Linked DNA regions of Homo sapiens: region 2 is linked to region 1. The links come from fine-mapping of genetic effects on gene expression. A gene starts in region 1. The other region holds a variant in brackets. All regions are shown on one strand. Distances are between the middles of the regions.

The links.
Region 2: its variant is fine-mapped to the expression of LRRC1 in anterior cingulate cortex (GTEx, PIP 0.97).

What each region holds. Positions count from the first base shown.
Region 1 is chr6:53,786,650-53,798,336 of GRCh38, reverse strand. It overlaps LRRC1 (leucine rich repeat containing 1), which reads right to left and starts at 3,332. Exons shown (of 14, transcript NM_018214.5): 1 at 2,922-3,332. The coding sequence starts at 3,080. LOC124901333 (a long non-coding RNA gene) reads left to right here and starts at 4,662. Exons shown (of 5, transcript XR_007059619.1): 1 at 4,662-4,796; 2 at 4,988-5,054. RefSeq lists an enhancer at 2,548-3,260 and silencers at 3,227-3,466, 4,512-4,641.
Region 2 is chr6:53,837,234-53,845,233 of GRCh38, reverse strand. It overlaps LRRC1 (leucine rich repeat containing 1), which reads right to left. Exons shown (of 14, transcript NM_018214.5): 2 at 3,007-3,124. Among named protein-coding and RNA genes, the nearest start is that of LRRC1, 46 kb to the right of the region's middle. The variant C/T (reference allele first, on the strand shown) is at 4,300.

The DNA of each region.
Region 1 (11,687 bases):
AGGTTACAGTGAGACTGCCTTTGTTAGCACAGAGCCAAAAAGGATCAAACTGCGGGTATGGGGGAGAAGTAGGTGGATGCAAAAAGGATGGTGAGGCTATCACCCAACTGCAACCAAACTGAAGATGAGGGATCTGATGCAAAAGGTTAAAAGATTAGGGAAGTAACCATCAAGTCCATAGCTTAGGAGTAGTTTAACCGTGGTGTCCTTTCCATCCCACACTAACTACATCTGGATTAAAATCATCTGCTTCCTCCCAAAGATGTGAATCATGCCTCCTTTAATCTCTATATTCCCAATAACTTGTAAATAATGGAGTCTCAATAAATGCTTGGCTAAGGCTAAGTTATAATGACATGAGTAAAACAGGAGAGACTAAATAAAGATTTGATGGGTGTGAGAAGCAGGATAGAAGATTCCTGCTAGGTGTCCAAAGCAATTGTATTTGGCTGACATCTGAATGAACAAGACCCACCAGCAACTGCATCTAACTCACTGGACAGCCCTGAGAAAGTCACCTCAATTCTGAATCTGAATTTGTAAAAGGAAGATATTGGCGCAAACCAGAAGTTGCAGGCCTTTCAGTGGAAAGAAGGTGGCTGTTATTACACTGAAACCTGGAGAGTGCATCTTTGCTGCCCTGGTAAGGGGTACCGGCTTCCCCTTAAGCTGTGCTTCCAAACAAATTATAGAGAGGAGAACATACAGCTGGTATGGCCACCAAAATAAGGACCTTTGAGGCTTGTGAACAAAACAGATGCGCTTGTGTGTGGCAGGTAAGGAGACAGGGGTTTGGAGCAGGAGCAGCAGAGACCAGTGGTAATAAGTTATACAGATCTCAGAGGTGAGACAACAGATAGCCCAAGGAAAGAATGGAAGGGATGGAACAGATATCTATGTTTGCAAGGTGGTTCTCATGTCTGGCATGTACACACCCAGGCACCAAGACACACAATAAGTCAGGGAGAAGTAGATTTTACACAACCTAAAAACTTTAATACTAATTTAACAGCTGTTAGAGCAATAATAATCCATTAGCAAGATCACCTGTAACCTTTGAAAAGCTTGTTTATTTACCATATTTACAGAGTGCCATCAGACTATATTTTGAGATTCTGACAAGTTTCCATTTAGGATCACAGAAAGACCTGACATTTCGGCTTGGCATGGGAAATTATGTAATTTCCCATGCCAAGCTGAATTCCCCAACATTACAGGAAAACCCACAAACCCTGCAGAAGGGAGTGAAAAGCCAATCCAGTCAAAGGAAATCTTCCAGTTCTACAAAAGAAAACAAAAAAACAAATACCACAAAGAGCAATGAATCATTTCTAGTGAATAACTTTTCACTCCATCTTCAATAATGTCATCCTGAAGCCCCTGAAAACTATTAAATTACATATTCTATATTCCTGGTGATATCACTGCCTAAAATTACACAACTTAAAGCAGTGAGGGAGCTGACGACTGGTAAGAAATCTTCAAGGACGTAAAAGGCCAGAAAAAAATCATGTGTTTGAAAATGCCTGCGAAATAATAAACGCCTGAGGGAACTTGATGGCTTTGCTGCTTCTAAGCTAAATAAAGCCTGGGGGGCTTTGCAAAGGTCCTAGTGAGGATAATCTCCATGATTACACAGAGCAAACATCCAATCAATTCCACATGAACCCAGGAAAGTTAATCCAAGAAGAACACCACCACTTAAAATATTGAGAAAAACACACAGTTCTTATTGTTTAAATGCTCCATCAGCGCTGGAGAACGTATCAGGTCATTCTAACAAGTCAGAACACTTGACTAGTGTTTCTGTGACAATGATTTGGCTTGTGTTAACTAAAGGGCAACAAGAAGTTTGCGTTCCAAAGCTCAGGCCTAAAACAGGTCCAATCCCCGACTGCCAGCAGTCTCCCTACTTCCTGCACACCTTTGGATTATTGCACACCGACTTCCTGCACACACCTGGGTTTGAGACACCTTCCCCGAGGGGTTACTCTAGCTAAGTTCCCGAGGCAAGCTTGAAAGAAGTTCGCTGTACCCCTACTCTCGGTCAAAGCACCATCAGCACATGTCGCTTGACAAGTTCGGCGGCAATGGAGTGATCAATTTACATAAACAACTCTGAAGAGATAACGCATCACTGCAAGGAGAGAAAGTCAGCAGGACGACTGTGCCCGCTCCGGGAAAGGCGGCTGCAAGGCTGGCCCGCGGGCAGAGCCTCCGCTGACGTTCACCGCAGCTCCCACCACGCAACAGGTCCACGTAGGCAAGGCCCGGGCGGCCGGCATCTGGGCACCTGCCCCTAGCGCTCCAGGCCCAGCTCTCCCCTGCGCCCATCTCGCGTCCACCCCCGCAGCCACCGCAGGCCAGCCGGCCAAGCCCACCCGCGATAAAGCACGGAGCACATTCCTCATTCCTCCCAAGATGCCGAGATAGTGCGGCCCGCTTGAGCGCTGCCCAGGTCACAAGGTCCTCCGGGACATGCCTTGACTAAAGGAGAGGCGCGCCCGGCCCTTGGTGGGGGAACGACCCCGGGGAGTGGAGGGGGGGAGGATGCAGTGCTCTGTAGCTTCCAGATGGAAACAGCCCGAATCACCCGGCTTCTCACCTGACCGGGCACAAGTGCCAGGTGTCAGTACCTAGCATGGATCTAAGTTACTTAACAGTCCAGAACGCTTCTCCAATAGCACGAGCCCCAGTGACTACGCGCAAAATATCCGGTCACTTTGAATAAAATGAAAAGGAACTTTTACTGGGAAAGGATGGAAGTAAAGAGACAGGGGGAGAAAGAAGCAGGTGAATGCATAAAAGAGGGAAGGTTCCTTCACGCCGGACCCGGAGATGGAAGAGGGGACGAGAGAGGATGGGAGCGGAAGGGACAGCAGACGAGCGGGCAGAGCGCTCAGGTGAGGCCGGACCCTTACCTCGGGCAGCTCGCGGAGCTGGTTGGCGTCCAGCAGCAGCTCCTCCAGGCTCCGGGCATAGCGGTAGATCTCCTCGGGGACGTAGACCAGCGAGCAGTGGCGCTTGTCGATGCTCTCCACATGACGGTTGCACCGCCACAGGGGGATGCAGTGGAACATCGCCGCCCCCGCCGCCGCCTAGCCGGGTCCCGAGCGGCGGAGACCCGGGCTCCGAGCCCGCTCTGGCCGGCGGCTCCGCTCAGTCCGCTGCCCTCTCCGCGCTCGTTGTTGGCTCTTGGGTTAGCTCGCTTCTCGCGCCGGGCTTCGCGGTCGGAAGTGCTTCAAGGAACCTGGAGCGGGAGCCCCTGCCCCGTCCCTGTACCCCCGCCCGCCAGCCGGTGCCTCCACTCCCACCCGCCAGTCGCCGTCGCCGCCCCCGCCGCCGCGCGGAGCTTCCTACTCGCAGCCGCCGCGCGGACTGAGCATGCGCGCCAGTGGGTGCGCGCCGAGGGCGTTTCCCGGCCCGAGGGATGCTCCGCTCCGGGTTTTCCCGGCGACCTGCATCCAGAGAGGGTCGACTGACCTGCGGGCCGGCTGCTGGCGGTCTGCTTACTCCGGCAAAGACGGGGGCGCATCGGGCCGTTTGAGGAAGGCAGACTGTGAAAGGACTTGGGACAAAGATGAGGCGGAGTAGAGGCGGCCTGAGCAGAGCAGAACAACTTTGATATTTAGTTTTATTTAACTCGCACTCCTCTCCTTGCTCCCCTTCCCCAAAACAACTTTCTCTTCCGGGGTCACACAGGACCGCCCCAAAGCGTACCTTGCGCGCCGGGGGCGCCAGGCGCTACTGGATTCGGTGTAGTTTTGAGGTGTTTGCACCACCCTCGCTGCTGCTTTCGTGGCTGCCCGTGTGCCCGCTGCTCACGGCTGCCCCAGAAGTGTGAGCTGGCCGCGCCCGGCCCTCTGGTCCTCGGGCACCGCCTGCAGGCTTTGTAACTTGGGAGCACATCTCTGGTGATCATGGTTTATGCAGTGAGTGATAGTAAATCCTCCTCCCTGTACCAGCAAAGGCATAGGAGTCTGAGAGTCTGCGAGATTCTCATAGATGTGGTTGCACCTGGCAAGGAGCCCAGCTGCAGAAATAAGCAGGCAAACGCGAGTTTCTGAGCCAGTTCCAGCCCGGCCCAGATGTTGGCCCCTGACAACTAGCTGTGGCTGGTGCGGAGGGAGGAGCGAGGGAAGAGGGGCAGATCGAGGCTGCCAGGTGAGCATCCTCCATACAGCTCCTGCTTTTCTGCTACAACCCCAGTCCCGTCCAGCCCGGATGACCGGGGAGGCTCACTATTGGGTTATAACAACCATTCCCTCGCCCCGACTCATTCCTGCGGACCACGGCCGGAATCCTGAACTGCCCCTCTTTGCCTGTAACTGTTTGCAACACAGTCCCCATCTCCGAATAACCAAATTTTCTCCTTTAATGAAGGGTTGCTAAAGTCAAGGTCAATCACAATGATGAATCATTTCCTTGGGGGCTTCTCTGATTCCCCACCCGGCCGCCCCTTCGTTCCACACTTTCCCTTTCAAGCATACTCAAACTCCAGGTTTCCACCTGCGGCCGCTGCCACGCTGGCTCTCCCACACTCACTCCCGCCCTCCAGCTGCTATAGCTAAAATCTGGAGCCACGGAGTTCACTTTTCTATAGAAGACAAAGCTGAGCATGCTCAGTGGCCAAGGCAAAGTTTGGTCGGAAACTAGTTTTTGCATTAGACTCTCCATGGGCTCCATAGACTCTCCTGTACCTTACGACTAGGCACAGGAGCGTTTCCCCGGTGAAATGGAGAAGAGGACACTTGGTCTTTTCAACTTTACTAGGAGGGCTCCTTTCTTCCCAGTCCGTAAGGAGGGGTCTGACTTTCATTTCCACCCCAGCATTATCACCTTAACTCTCATTCCAGTCAATCCCGAAACTCCGTTGCCCTACCCACTTCACCCTTCTTTTGTTTGTCCTGATTTGATTCCTGCGTTCTCACAGAGGGCTACCTGGACTTTGAACCTCCACCCCCCTTTCTACATTCTTGCATTCCAGAAACATATGAAGCTCATTTCTGCCACCCTTCCTAGAAAACTGGTTCCTGACAGAGACATGTGGAAAGGTAAGTAAGTCCCTGTCTTCAAGTTTTCCAACTGCTTTTTAAAAAAAAAATTAAAGAAGGCTAGTTCCCTCCATTTAAAATAATGTGATTTCCAGAGGTTATCACACTAGATTATTTTAACGAACACCAAATGTATTTTAAAGACGTGTCCAGTCTTTTAAAAATTCAGACCTCAATAAGCATTCCTTGTGTGCCTCTCCATGATGCTTCAGCTTCTCTGTGTTATTATTTTTGTATCACCTTAATCCGAAAGAGATTATGACCTCTTAAACAACAGATACTGTCTCACTTGCTTTGTAGATCTGGGAAGCTGCCACAGTGCCATATGCACAGTCAATGATCAACAGTTTTTGTTGATTTAATTCTATGGGTAGTCACTGGGAGAATTCTTGACTTTCCTTGTTTCCAATAATCTGCCAAGAATTTGAAACAGCGTAGTAAGAGAGAAAAAATGAAACAACACCTTGTCAACTACAGAATAGGGAAGCAATTAACTTTTTACTCACCTGAAGAATTTTAGGGTTTCCCGCCTGATAAAACATCTAGTTTCTTCCGCCACATACAAATGAGTTTGACTCAATTTAAACAAAGTTTAAAAAGACCACCTAAATCACTTTATTCTTAGAATAATGTAATTCTTTTATTCATTTGTACTGTGAACCATGTTTTCACAGCCTTTGAGCTAAAGAGATCTGTGTTTGAACTCTTGTTATGCCACTAGCTTCGTAGAAATTGACAGTTTACTTAACTTGTATAAGCCTCAGTTTTATCATATCTCAAATGAGGATGATTCATGGGATTGTTATCTGGATTAAATGAAATGACATATGTAAAATGCTTAGTACAGTATCAGACACACATTACTTTAATCAATAAATATTAATTATGCACTTTATTAGCCAGCCTCCAGGAAGTTAGGGACAACATCCACCATCTCCTGGTTGGTCTATGTAACCAACTTTTTCTTTCTCGAATCACTCACTTTGGGGAAGCCAGCTGCCATGTTGAGCAAATCTAGAGCTCCACATGCCAAAGAATTGCAGACTGCTGACAACAACTAGCAAGGGACTGACGATTCTTGGCAGTAGTCATGTGAGTGAGCCATCTTGGAAGCCAGTTCTCCAGCCCTTGTCAAGCCTTCAAGTGACTGCAGCACCAGCTGATAGCTTGACTAAAACCTCATGATAGCCTCAGACTCAGGACCACTCAGCTAAGCTGCTCCCCACTCTTGCCCCTCAGAAATTATGTGAGACAGTAAATGTTTGTTGCTTTAAGCTGCTAAGATTTGGAGTAATTTATTACACAGCAACAAATAACTAATAAAGGTACATACTATGCACCAGGCATTGTGCTAGATACTAGAAATGTAAGAAAAACAAGATAGGTCTTAGCCTCATGAAGCTTACTCTCTGAAGTTAGGAGAATGATAAATACTTAGTGGTCTGTTGTTGCTTTATCATTAATTTTTTGAGCATGATATCATTAATTTTTTTAAGTGAAAATCCAAAGTGTTAGCGTGTAAGATAGGGATTCTTGTAAATGGGGATTCAGAGGTTTGGGCATGTGAATTTTAATGTGACATACCACCGCCTAACCACTAGAATGACTTAAAATTAAAGAAAAAAAAAAAAAGACAATCCCAAATGTTACTGAAGATATAGAGCAACTTGGCCCGGCAGAGTGGCTGACACCTGATTCCAACACTTAGGGAGGCCCAGGCGGAATGGGGTGGAGGGATCGCTTGAGGCCAGGAGTTCAAGACCAGCCTGGGCAACATAGGGAGACACCCACCTCTACAAAAAATAAAAAATTAGCCTGGCATAGTGGCATATGCCTGTAGTCCCAGCTACTCAGAAGGCTAAGGTGGAAGGATCACTTGAGCCTCCTAGTTAGTTTGAGGCCGCAGTGAGCTGGGCACTGCACTCAGCCTGGACAACAGCATAGGACACTGTCTCAAACAAATAAAAAAATGGAACAACTGGAATTCATACACTGCTGGTGGAAGTGTAAAATGGTAAAACCACTTTGTAAAACAATTTGGCAGTTTATTGTAATCATATGCCTACCTTAATGATCTACCCATTCTACTCCTAGGTATCTGCACAAGAAAAAGTGAAAACATATGTCCAAGCAAGGATTGTTTACAAATGTGCATAGCAGTTTTGTTAATAATAGCCCCAAACTGGAAACAATCCAAATATTCATCAACAGACGGATACAGTGTAGTATAGTGAAACAATGGACTAGCATTCAACTAAAAGGAGCAAGCTACTAATACATGTAGCAATGTGCATAAATCGCAAAAACTATGTTGTGTACAAGGCAAACACAAATGAGTACATACTATATGATCCCATGTATATAAAATTCTGGAAAATGCAAACTAATATAAAGTGACACAACCTAAATCAGTGGTCTAGAACCTGTTAGTTGGGTTGTAGGAGGGATTGTGGTGATAAAGATTGATGATGAAAAACAGAGAATTTGTAGGGGAAGTGGGCGATGGAAATATTATATATCTTGATTGTGGTGTAGTTATGTGGGTATATACTTTTTTCATCAGACTGTATAGTTAAAATAAGAAACTATTACATAAGATATATATATCACTAAAATTAATTCTAAAAATTAAAAAGTATACAGGTGAATGTATCCAACAAGTTGCAAATTACATCTAGGGTTAGGGATCATGTTGTATTAGTTGCTCAATAAATATTTACTTGTTCACTACATGCCAGGCACTGGGTTAATTTGCTGGAGAGACAAAAAAGAACAAGACAGGGCTTTCAGTCTTACTGAAAGAAAGGCAGCTATCAAGGAACTTATAAATCATAGTACTATTGTAGTGTGATACAGCTTTTTTTTTCTTGATCTAGAGAGGATGACTTTTTGTCCTGTAAGAGATTATTTGAGGTATTTAGATAACAGGTCAAATAGCAAATTAAATCTTAATGATATACAAATCTGGATAATAGAAAGATAGGTCAATTTGTATATGAATCCCAAAGCCCTCTCTCAGAGAAGAAGCACTCAGATCCCAACTCATGATTCTCCAAGGTTGAGTTTATGGATATTTCCTGAAGATTATGTATCTGTGCTATAAGGGAAGGCTACACTCAAACCATTTGAGAAACCTGAGAGCCTGCAGAATTACATGGATACATTAGTTTAGAAGTCAGCAATGTTTATGATCAGAACCAAAGTAATTACCCTAAAATCTCTTTGATTCATATTACTATTTAAGTTGAAATTCTGTCCCCATCCCTTGCTTTTTGGTTGAAATGTTTAGTCCATTTACATTTCATATAATTATCAGATGATTTGGACTTAAATCTATTATTTTATTATTTGTTTTCCATGTGTACCATCTGATTTTTGTTCCTCTGTTCCTCCTTTTTTGACATCTTTTAAGTAAATAAATATATTTTATAATCTCACTTTATCTATTGGCTTTCTAGCTATCGTGATTGCTCTAGGGAATATAATATGCATCCTTAAATTTTCACAGTCCAGTTAGAGTAAATATACCAATTCATATAAACCCTTGCATATGATTCCTGCAATTATCTAGGTCCGTTTGTCAACTATCTGGTGCTTTATGTTACAATTTTTATGCAGATTACATTTATATGTTATAAACCCCACACAAAATTTTTCATATTTTCTTTTAAAATTCTTTAGTATTTTAAAGAAATAAGAGGAAAAAATTGTCTTTTATATTTACTCACACGTTTATTTCCAGTGCTCTTCATTCCTGTCTCATGTCATGTCTCTTCACCTGGAAGTTTGTTAAAGATTTATCTGCAGATGTCTTTATTGTACCTTAATTCTTTATAAATATTTTCAGTAGGTATACAGTTCTGGGTTGACAAGTTTGCTGGTTTTTTTTTTCTTCTCAGCACTCTAAAAATAATCAATTTTCTAATTTCTTATGAGAAGTCAGCAATAACTCAAATTGGACCTAATTTGTATGTAATATACCATTTTCTCTGGCTGCTTTTAAGATTTTCTCTCTGTTCTTGGTTTTTAGTAGTTTAATTAGTATATGTCTGTATTTATCTTGATTATGGTTTACTGAGCTTCCTGAATCTGTAAATTTATAACTTTCACCAAATTTAGAACATTTTCAGCCATTGTTTCTTCACATATTTTTTGCCCATTCTCTTCTTCCCTTTTAATACTTCAATTTTTAAAATGTTAGACCTCTTGATATTGTCCCACATATTTTTGAGGTTCTGCCTCTTTTTTCCCTGATATTTTTCTCTCTGTTTTCCACATTGGATAATATATACTGTTCCAGCTTCAAGTTTACTGGTTCTTCTGTCATCTTCAAACTGCTGCTAAGCCCATCAGAAATGCAATTTCAGATGGTGTATTTTTTAGTTCTGAAATTTCCATTTGGTTCTTTTTCTATATAGTTTCATTTATCTGCTGAGATTTCCTATGTGTTCATTTATTAAGAGTTTATGTTCCTTTACATATTTGATTAAGGTTATAATAGCTGCTTTAAACTCTTTGTAGGCAAATTCTGAAACCTGGGTCATCTTAGAGTCATTCTGCCTTGATTGCATTTTCTTTTAAGTATAGGTCACATTTTTCTGTCTCCTCATATACCTAGTAATTTTGGATTATGTCCTGGATATTGTAAATAATAGAATCTCTGGATTCTGTTATATTCCTCCAAAGAGTGTTTTTGTTTTGTTTTGTTTTAGCAGCCTGTTAGCTTGGATGAAATAAAACAAAAAACTCTTATTTTCTCTGTGGTACATGGCAGCTGAAATTTGTGTTCAGTTATTTTATTCTTAATTAGGTTGCTTAAAAGCTGAACTACACATGCATAATTTAGCGGTCAGTCAAATATTTGGACGATTTATATGCAGAATCTGGAGCTTCTGTTCTCACTCAATCCTGTCTGAGGTTTCCCGCTTCTCACTTTCAAGGTGCCTTTGTCACCCCAACTCTGATGTATGATACATTGAGCCAGATTGCTCTAAACATGAGTTTTAGCTGATCTATGTGATAGACTCTAGTGTATGCTTGTCAAAGTCATAAAAGCAGAAAATTCACTCTTCTTCCTAGTATAGATTTTCCTTCAGTTGCTGCTTGGTTTTGGCCATTCTGCAGTACCTTCAGATAGTTGATTTTTGCATTTTGTTCAGCACTGTAATTGTTATCTGTGGGAAAGTTGGTCATGTAGTAACCATTCAGTTGTTTTTTATAAATTGTAATCATTTGTTTATATAGCTTCACAGATTGTAAGAGTATGTGGACAATCCAAATTTTCTTATTACTAAGATTTTAATCTACCCCTCCATTCATAGGAGTTACAAATGAGCAAATTGAGTTTTCTGCTTTTCTGTTTTTCTCAATCTCCTTATAAAGGTTCTCATGATGAGTCAAATATTGAACAGCATTTTGCCTTGGTGGAAATGAGCCAAAACTACCTGTAGTGTGGGGTGGTATAAAGAACTCATGATTTTGCATTGAATTTTTGGATCTGCCACTACTAGGGATGAGATCTTGGGTTAATCATATTTAACTCCAATATTCTTTATTTCTACAAAGGCATGAAAAATGCCACCCTCAAATGGCTTTTGAGAGGATTATGGGTTAATGTAGTGGAAAAAGTTTTCCATACTGCAGAACACAACACATTAGGCATTATTCATTGTCAATACTCTTTGCTCAGTTACCAGCCAAAAGAAAGCCTATCATGTGAGTACATTGTTTAGGTAAACAATATGTAAATTATCATATCAGTTGATATGAGACGGTAAAGTATTTCAGTAGGAAAGAGACTATATCAAAGAAGCCAAATCAAAACCAGGTATCTGCCACTGAATCCATCTTTTTCCAGGCCTCTGCCTCAGCCTCATGGTCTCCTTCTTTGATAAAACAGGAAGGTGAAGCTTAGAGGTGGCTCAGGTTGTGGCAATGCTTTACATTTGTGTAATGCTTTATCGTTTAAAAAGAGTACATTAGCATACATTGCCTCATCTGATCAAAATGTACTTTTTAATCATTTAAGTAAACATAGATGCCTCATTTATTTTTCACCTTCATCCACAAAAGGTTTAAGAAAATCATATAGCCGTGTCTCTTCTTATGTTACTCTTATTTTATTGTTACAGTTCCTACAATATAAATTAAATCAATATAGACATTGTTTTCACTGAAGGCCAAGGTCTACTTTGTAATTAGTAAAAATTATACCTATGAGTGAAACCACTCCACTGAGCACTGTCATTCAAACAGTTCAAAGACCATTAGTGATCAAAGTATGTTGATCAGTTAACTAACATAAGCCTGAAAGATCTCCTATTTCTCCAGTCAAGTTAGCACTATCCATAAAGTTCATGCAAACTTGACTGGAGAATAAGATACCTTTTAGGGCTAGTCAACTTGAAATAATATGTTATTAATAATGCTGTCTTGAAAGAAAGAAAGAAAACTATTAACTTTCAGGCTGACAAAAACATTTAACTGTTTAAGCATACCATGATAGTTTATTTATGTTACTAATAAAACAATGAAGATCAGATCAACATGTATTTTTAAAAGTATAATATTTAGGTTTCATTCAATCATTTATTTCAGAAACCATCAGATATCTCTGCAATTCTAATTTATTCA
Region 2 (8,000 bases), 49 kb before region 1:
GCACAGATTCGTTCTTTCTTTTGTTTGTTTGAGACGGAGTCTTGCTCTGTCGCCTAGGCTGGAGTGCAATGGCGTGATCTTGCCTCACTGCAACCTCCACCTCCCGGGTTCAAGCGATTCTCCTGCCCCAGCCTCCTGAGGAGCTGGGATTACAGGCACGTGCCACCAAGCCTGGTTAATTTTTGTATTTTTAGTAGAGTTGGAGGTTTCACCATGTTGGTCAGGCTGGTCTCGAACTCCTGACCTAGTGATCCCCCCGCCTTGGCCTCCCAAAGTGCCGGGATTACAGGCGTGAGCCACCGCACCCAGCCCAGGTTCACTCTTTCTTTTAATAACCTCCAGGAAAGCCCTGAACCTTCCATGCTGTCTTCCCCTCTACCCCCACATCCACCACACACATAATGCTACTGAGCCAGAGCCAGGCCCTGTCAAGAAGGGAAGGGAATGGTTAACTCCCTCTCGGCATTTCTAAGAGAGCTGGATAAGAAGGTGAACGTTCTGCAGGATCCCTCACAAAACTCCAACACTTGCAGAAGGAAAGGTTGAAAGTGAGCGGGGAAAAATACAACAACAACAACAACAACAAAAAGCAGGGTAGGTGTTCCAAGGAGCAGAAACATTTTTGTGTCCTGATACTGTCTTCAGTGAAAGCCTAGTTTCTTTTATCAACGTGCTGGAAGGTAAGGGGACACACGGGAAGATGCATGGAGCCCTTCTTTCTAGCTACAAATGTTTGAAAAGAGCTGATGTGGGAACTGGTAAAACTGGCAGCTGACTAGTGCTGACTTCCCACGGAGCATCCCATTAGAGTTAATTACGGGACTGGGAACTTTTGAGCTGTATGGTTTCCTTCCGCCCAAATAGTCAGAGCCAAAACTTTTCGTCTTTCTTAAGTATTTCTGTTTATTTCTAATCCCCATTTCAAAATTGCTATGTATTTCTTCAGATTTTGTGACTTTCGTGACCATTTTACAAAGTCACTGCTTCCTTGCAGAGTTAATAGCTAGTCATTCTTTATAACTTAGGTAACTGCTAGGACAAGAGAATCATTTCAATCACATATACCTTGGGAAAGTATTATACAGGCTAGTTTCTGAGGCAATTCTGGCCTGGCCAGACCCCAGATGCCCACCCCACCCCATACTCCAGTGTAAGCGAAGCTGCTCATCAACAACTTCTGTGCTGAGGGGCAGGGCCATGCTTTGTACTGGTTGCCATCCAACTCCCAGGGCAGCCAACCTTTAGGGTGGCTGGTAACCTGACCTGTACCCTATGTCTTATGATTGGCATAAAAAGATAAGTTGGGTCAACCACTCTTCACTGAGAAATCCTTCACTGGCAAACAAATGCTGCAGCAGGGGCAAAAGTCAAACTGTACGTAAAGAGAAGTCACAAAAAGAGGCCACCACAAGCCAGTTCCAACAGAGCAGTTCAGTGAGGAGGGAAGAACAGAGAACCCACAAACAGAAGTGGACACACTGGAAAAAAGAGGCCATGAAACCCCCAAGATAGTGTCAAATGCAAGCTTGGTGCCACTGCTTTTGGTGCATGTTAATTCCACCCCGCCTTCCTTACAATCAAATCCACTTTATCTAAGTAGATCTGGGTTCCCTGCGACCAAATAAGCCACTCTAAAACAAGACACCCTCCCCCAAAAAAGTTTTGTTTTACTTTTTCTAGTACCTTCAAAGTAAGAAATAATTTTCATGCAAAATAGAAGAATGTCACGATCACATGGCTAAGCCAGAAGACAGTTTCTAATTTATGGAATGTAACAGATAAAAACAATTTAAAACCTATTAGAAGTTGTTAGAAAGGAGGAATCATTTTTTTCTTCACCATATTTCCAACCAAGTACTGATTACCATTGCTGTATTATAACAATGACCCACAGAAGAATTATATGTCTGGGACCTGGGGTTTTTGCCAAAAATATCAGACTGAAATATACAGACCTAAAGATAATCAATTCAGAAGAAACCTATAGATTTTTGTAGGAAAACAGAAGCAAAACACAAAATAAATCAGGTATGTAATAGGAGAGAAATAAAGGAATTACCTTTTTAATAAATAATTCAGACCTTGTTCAAGACTATCCTAAGGAAATTGTACCAGGGTCCTTACAAGAACTGAATTCCATCACTAGATAGGACCACTGGGAGTTGCTACGTTAATTTAATAAATCAAATATGCTACAACAAGGAGCAGTACCAGCCCATTTGGGAAGCACTCTAAGGGGTATAAAACTGAGGGTTAAACCAAGGTACCCATTTAAAAATGAAAGGCATTTGAGTATCCCATTGGGGTATCTATTAGGATGCCCTATTCAAATGTTCAGTAAAAATGAATCAATAGTGGGATCTGAAAATCAAAATAAACTCACAAATATACCACACAAATTGAAGTGGGCAAAGCCACCAGCAGCCTAATTAGAAACACATTAAGACAGAAGATGCCTGAACGCAAGCAGGTCTGTTCACTACAGGGAGAGCATACCAAGCAACTGAGACACAGCCAAGAGAAACCAACCCTTCCCCAGGGCAGGTTTCCCTTGCCACAGCAGCACCCAAGCACTGGACAAAAACCATGCCACCAGTCCTCAATATCATGTTCAGCAAAATAAGTGGACAAGGTTAAATGATTGCCCAGCCCACTCTCTAACTCTAGGAATCAGATTGAACTTATTTGGAGAAAGCTGTCTCCTAAAACTTGTGTTATGAAATTTTTTTTGGAAAATGCCTATAAGTTAACTGACCTATTCAAAAATGGCATTAATTTCACCCCAAGAATCATATAGTTTTCCCATAACTATCAGGGAAAGCACCTCCAGTAATATTTATCTAGCTATATTTGGGACATGGATGAAGCTGGAAACCATCATTCTCAGCGAACTATCACAAGGACAAAAAACCAAACACCGCATGTTCTCACTCGTAGCTATATTTACTAAAAACACCCCCAGCATCTGAAGAGACAAATAGGCAACCCAAGTGGAATCTTTCTTACCATTTCGAGACACATCTAGTTCCACCAGCTGCATGAAGTTTGCTATTTCTGGAGGGAGCCGCTGAATTTCATTATCACTAAGTCCAAGCTTTCGTAATTTGACTAGCTGGAAAAATTGCTGAAAGACAAAAGAGTTTAACATAGATTTCACATATGTTTGTATCATAAACTTTTGGGCTACTATGAAATGTAAAACAATGTCTTTTAAAAACTAATGAAGGTTGTAGCAACATCAATTTCCTAACTTTGATGGCAGTACTGTAGTTGTGAAGATGTTACCATTGGGAAAAACTGGGTATAAGGAACCTCTCAGTACTATTTTTGAACTTCCTATCAATCTACAATTATTTCAAAATAAAAGGTTTTTAAAAATTAATGAGCAACTTAAAGAACAGTCACTCCTTTAAGCTATCCAGTAGACAGAAATATCGACTTATGAAAATTGACATTAAATCTGCAATGCTAAAGACATGTAAAAATGTCTTTTAAAAATATTATTTAAATTTTAAAATATTTTAAAAAGACATTTTTTAAAGAAATTATTGTATATCAGAAAGTATAATAAATATCCCACAAATGTGTGCAAGCAAAAAATATATTTTTGACCAGTCTAAAAAGTCTGCACTGGATACTTCCATCAACCATGGCAGACTGAGTACATGCTCTTTCCCCATACTTTTTAAAAACTGTATTAAAATGACACTAAAGGAATTTATATACACATGAACATAAATATAATGTGAAATAAGCCCATGAAGACAGAAAATGAAAGAGTACAAAAAGCGAACTAGATATGCAACAAAATCCTTTAAGCTAGAAAACAGAGGGATGAATGGTAACTAACAAACAAATTGAAACAAAGCTGAAATTTAAGCCTGTGGGGCGAGTAGCCAATAAGAAACTAGGTCCAGGTACCTCTGAGGAAAGGAGAACTGATTGAAAATTTATATAATGAACAGTTAAACTGCCATATTCTCTTCTCTACCCTGCAGAGCCAGGCAGGAGCCTGGAAATTTCCTCTCCAGAAGAGGTAAGTCCTACCACAGCTAAGCACAGCTGAGGGCAGGGGGTAACATAACCATGCTAAAAACAGGGGACTGAGACAAAGCCTGGTCAGTAAGATCCCACCCTCTCTTCTCCCTGCATCCCGGCTCCTGGGCATGAGCACAGACTTGCAGACACTAATCTTCCTATAAAGAAGCTTCAGGTTATAAGCCTCACCAACACACGGAGCTTCCAAACAGGCCCACCTCATCTGATCTCCACTGCCACATGCAAGAAAGAGAATGTGCG[C/T]GCACGCACACACACACACACACACACACACACACACACACACACACACAAACACATACCCCCCCACCCCAGAGGAAACAAACATGATGCAGGGAGCAGAAAAAATAATTCCTCAACCAAAAAATAATTAATATCCTCAGAGAAATCACAGATGAAGCAACATAACACCATAAAAAGCATAATTAGAAGAATTAGAAATAAGCTTTCAGAAAGTGAAAAATATTGTAGCATTGATAAAAGAATCCCATAAAAGAGGTGAAAAATAAAGTTAATAGAGTCCTCAGAAGGTGGAATAAAAAGACAAAAAGATGGGAAAGTGGGAGAAAAAAAGAGAGGAAAACTAATGGACCGGTTCACAAGGTACTACAAAGTAATTCGTAGTTGAAAGAGAGAAATACAGGAAACTGCAGGACATGCTTTTTCTGGTTTGAGAGGGCCCACCATGCGACCAATAAAATGAATGAAAAAAAAAGTACATACCAAGGCATACCATAAGATGTTAGAACTCCAGAAATTAGATTCTAAAAGTTTCCAGGCACAGGAAATAAAGGAAAAAGGTCTTAACAAAGAATTGGGTATCAGAATGGCACTGGACTCAAAAGCAACCTTGAAAGTAAGAGGGCAATAAAGCAATGCCTTCAAAATTCCAAAAAAATCATTATTCCCAACCTAAAATTATATACCCAGCCAAACTATCAATTAAGTATGATTACAGAATAAAAACATTTCAGTCACGCATGGTATCAAAAAGTTCAGTTTCCTTGCACCTTTCTCAGGACTCCATCAAAATATGTAAGTAAACTTAAAAGAAAAACAACCTGAGATCCAGGAAACAGAGAATCAACAAAACAGAGAAAGGCAAAGGAAATTCCCAGAATAAAATCATGAAGGGAATTCCAAAATGTTGCTTGAATATCAGGCCCCAAGAGCAACCCATCTACACTGCAGCAATATGACAGCTCCCAGAGGGAGGTTTTGAAAAAATAAATAAAAACACACCTGAGGAATTATCTGACATGTTTGGAAGTATCAAAGGAAATTTGCAACTCTTTCAGAATGTTTGGTGATAAATTAGAAATAGGCATAAAGAAAACAAAGCAAGCAAAAGGAAAGAGGGTTATTAATTCCAGGGAAAATATAAAGTGAAAGAATATATAATCATAATATAAAATTTGATTATGAACAGTACTTACAGTCATAACATTATAATATCTATATTGGTAAAACCAAAATTTATGTTATGTCAATATTGAGAGAATGGGAAAGAAACTGTAAGAACTAAAGCCTCATCTTCCACAAAAAGAAATCCATAAATAACTCAAAGAGGAAAAAAAATCAAGCCGCAAAAGTCATTTAGCAATATGGAGGCAAATATTCGCAGAAATAGTCAAAAGCCAGAAACCGGAGTGGGGAAGGAGGCAAGAGGCTGCTGTTTTTCACTGTCACACTAAACAGCTTATTAGATTTTTAAACTATTTGCATACATTACTCTGCTAAAAATAGAAATTGAATTTACAAATGAAGAAGTCTCTACTAAGATTACAGGATGCTCCAAATGTTAATTTTGTAGGATGCTAACATTTAATAGACTTTATCTTTCTTTTTTTTGTTGGTAAAAAAGATTGTATATTTATATAATCATACAATTGCCTCTTGGAAAGCAATTGAGCAATACGTAAAAGAAAAAATCTTTTCAAGTCCACTGAAATACTTCTGGACACCTGTCCTCATAACTGAAAATAATGCACAAATACATCTTTGCACTATTATGTGTAAAAATAAAAAACTAGAAAACATACATTTCAAATAAGAAAAATGATTGCATATTATTAAATAATTCAATATTATGCAACAATAAAAATAAATATTATAAAGACCACAGAACTTGAAAAAGATTTACCATGCAAATATAACTTAAAAAGAAAACAAAATTGCTGATACACTACATTAAAAAAGCATGTGTGCATGTGGACTGACAGGAAGAGAACAAAGAAGAAAAAAGCAGTTATGTTGGGTGACAAAGATAATGCATGAATGACTTTTTAATTTAAAAACCATATTTTTTTAAAAAATAAAATGAACTATAAATCTCAGCAAATGAATGCTACCAATTAGCTATACAAGATGATGAGGAAAGTGCTCAACTACAGGACTAATCCTTTGCATTTCTTTACTCATGCAGTTGAGATTTAATTTCTTAAGGAAAGATATTGAAATGTCTTTATACTGGCTGAACTAAAGCATCAGCCAGCACAAAAGCCATTCAATAGAGTCACGTATTTGAATAATTGAGCTTATGCCAATTGTACAGAGTCTTGACAGTTTCATAATACATCAATGTGTTTACTCAAGCATGAAAAGCTCACTTTGTTTTCTAGGAAAGGCATAATAGCAAAACTACAAAACCCATCACCATCTCCATACATTCTGGGACCATTCAGAAATAAGACAAGAAATCAAGTCAATAAGGTACTTAGATGTACAGTGAATAATAAGTTCACTTTACATCTGTGGAAACGATAACCTACAAATCCTCACATCCAATAGAAGTCATAACAGCATGCAAATTTAAGGTTTGGTTCTGCATGTTACCAGCATCCTCCACTAGAGCCTGTCACAAATACTACTTTATTCAACTTGGGAAGTACATGCCAGATGTAAAAACAACCCCATCTGACATGATCCCAAATGAAACCAGTAATTCCTTAATCCTTCCCTCATTATCCTGATGTGATCTTAATATGGTATCCAAAGATCAACACAATGCCAAGGAAACTGTATTAAATTCTCAAATATTCAGCTTCCTTAGAGAGTCAGGAAAAATAACTCACTAAGCTATAAACCCTTCTGCCTTGCCTTTGAGATCAGCCAGAGCCCATGAAAAACAATTCCTGTAGCTGTCTTGGCAGGAAGCCTCAGTGCAGTGCAACCATGTGACAGAACACACAGACACCATTCTTCAACTCTACCATGTTTGATTATAGCTCACTAACCCACTTAGAGCACATTCTGTACAATTATATGCAAAGGAACCCAAATTGCCTCGGGTTGTTATGCTACACCCATCTTCTTAGAGCCACCATTGCTTTTAGTAGATACAGCCTTTAATTTGGCTAAATGTTCTCCCATTCTCCATTTCTGACAAGATTCTTTTCCTTCTTTTTTGGTAAAGTGTTAGTACCTCCCTTCTGCTTTTTAGAAAGGGACAAAGAAAATCTCAGTCCTAGAAGAGCTGGGTCCCCTTTTATTATTATATGGCCAAGGATCAGTCAATTGTCCCCCAGTTGCCCAAACTTCTCCTCTGCAATATAGAGAAAACATAAACCATTGTTACAAATTCAAATGGAGAACAACTAATGTAAAAAATGCTATTAATTCCTGAAAAACTATGGGACTCCTAACTATAATAACACCAAATTTACTCACAGATTTCCTTCCCAGAGACATTCTAACCTATCACATACATCTTGACCCCTTTTCATCCTACATAACTCTCATACCATCCCTACTCCGGTCCCCATCAACCTAGACTGCCTTTTTGGTCAACCACCTGTATGTGGTTGCATGGTAAACCAACAGTTCTAATCTCAAGGTAAGATGCACAGTACACATCATTTGTGTCATCTGGTATTGTTCTTTTCTGTGAGACTTGCAAAAAGTGACTGTGACTTTGTTACCCAGAAGTTATACTACTAGGTATA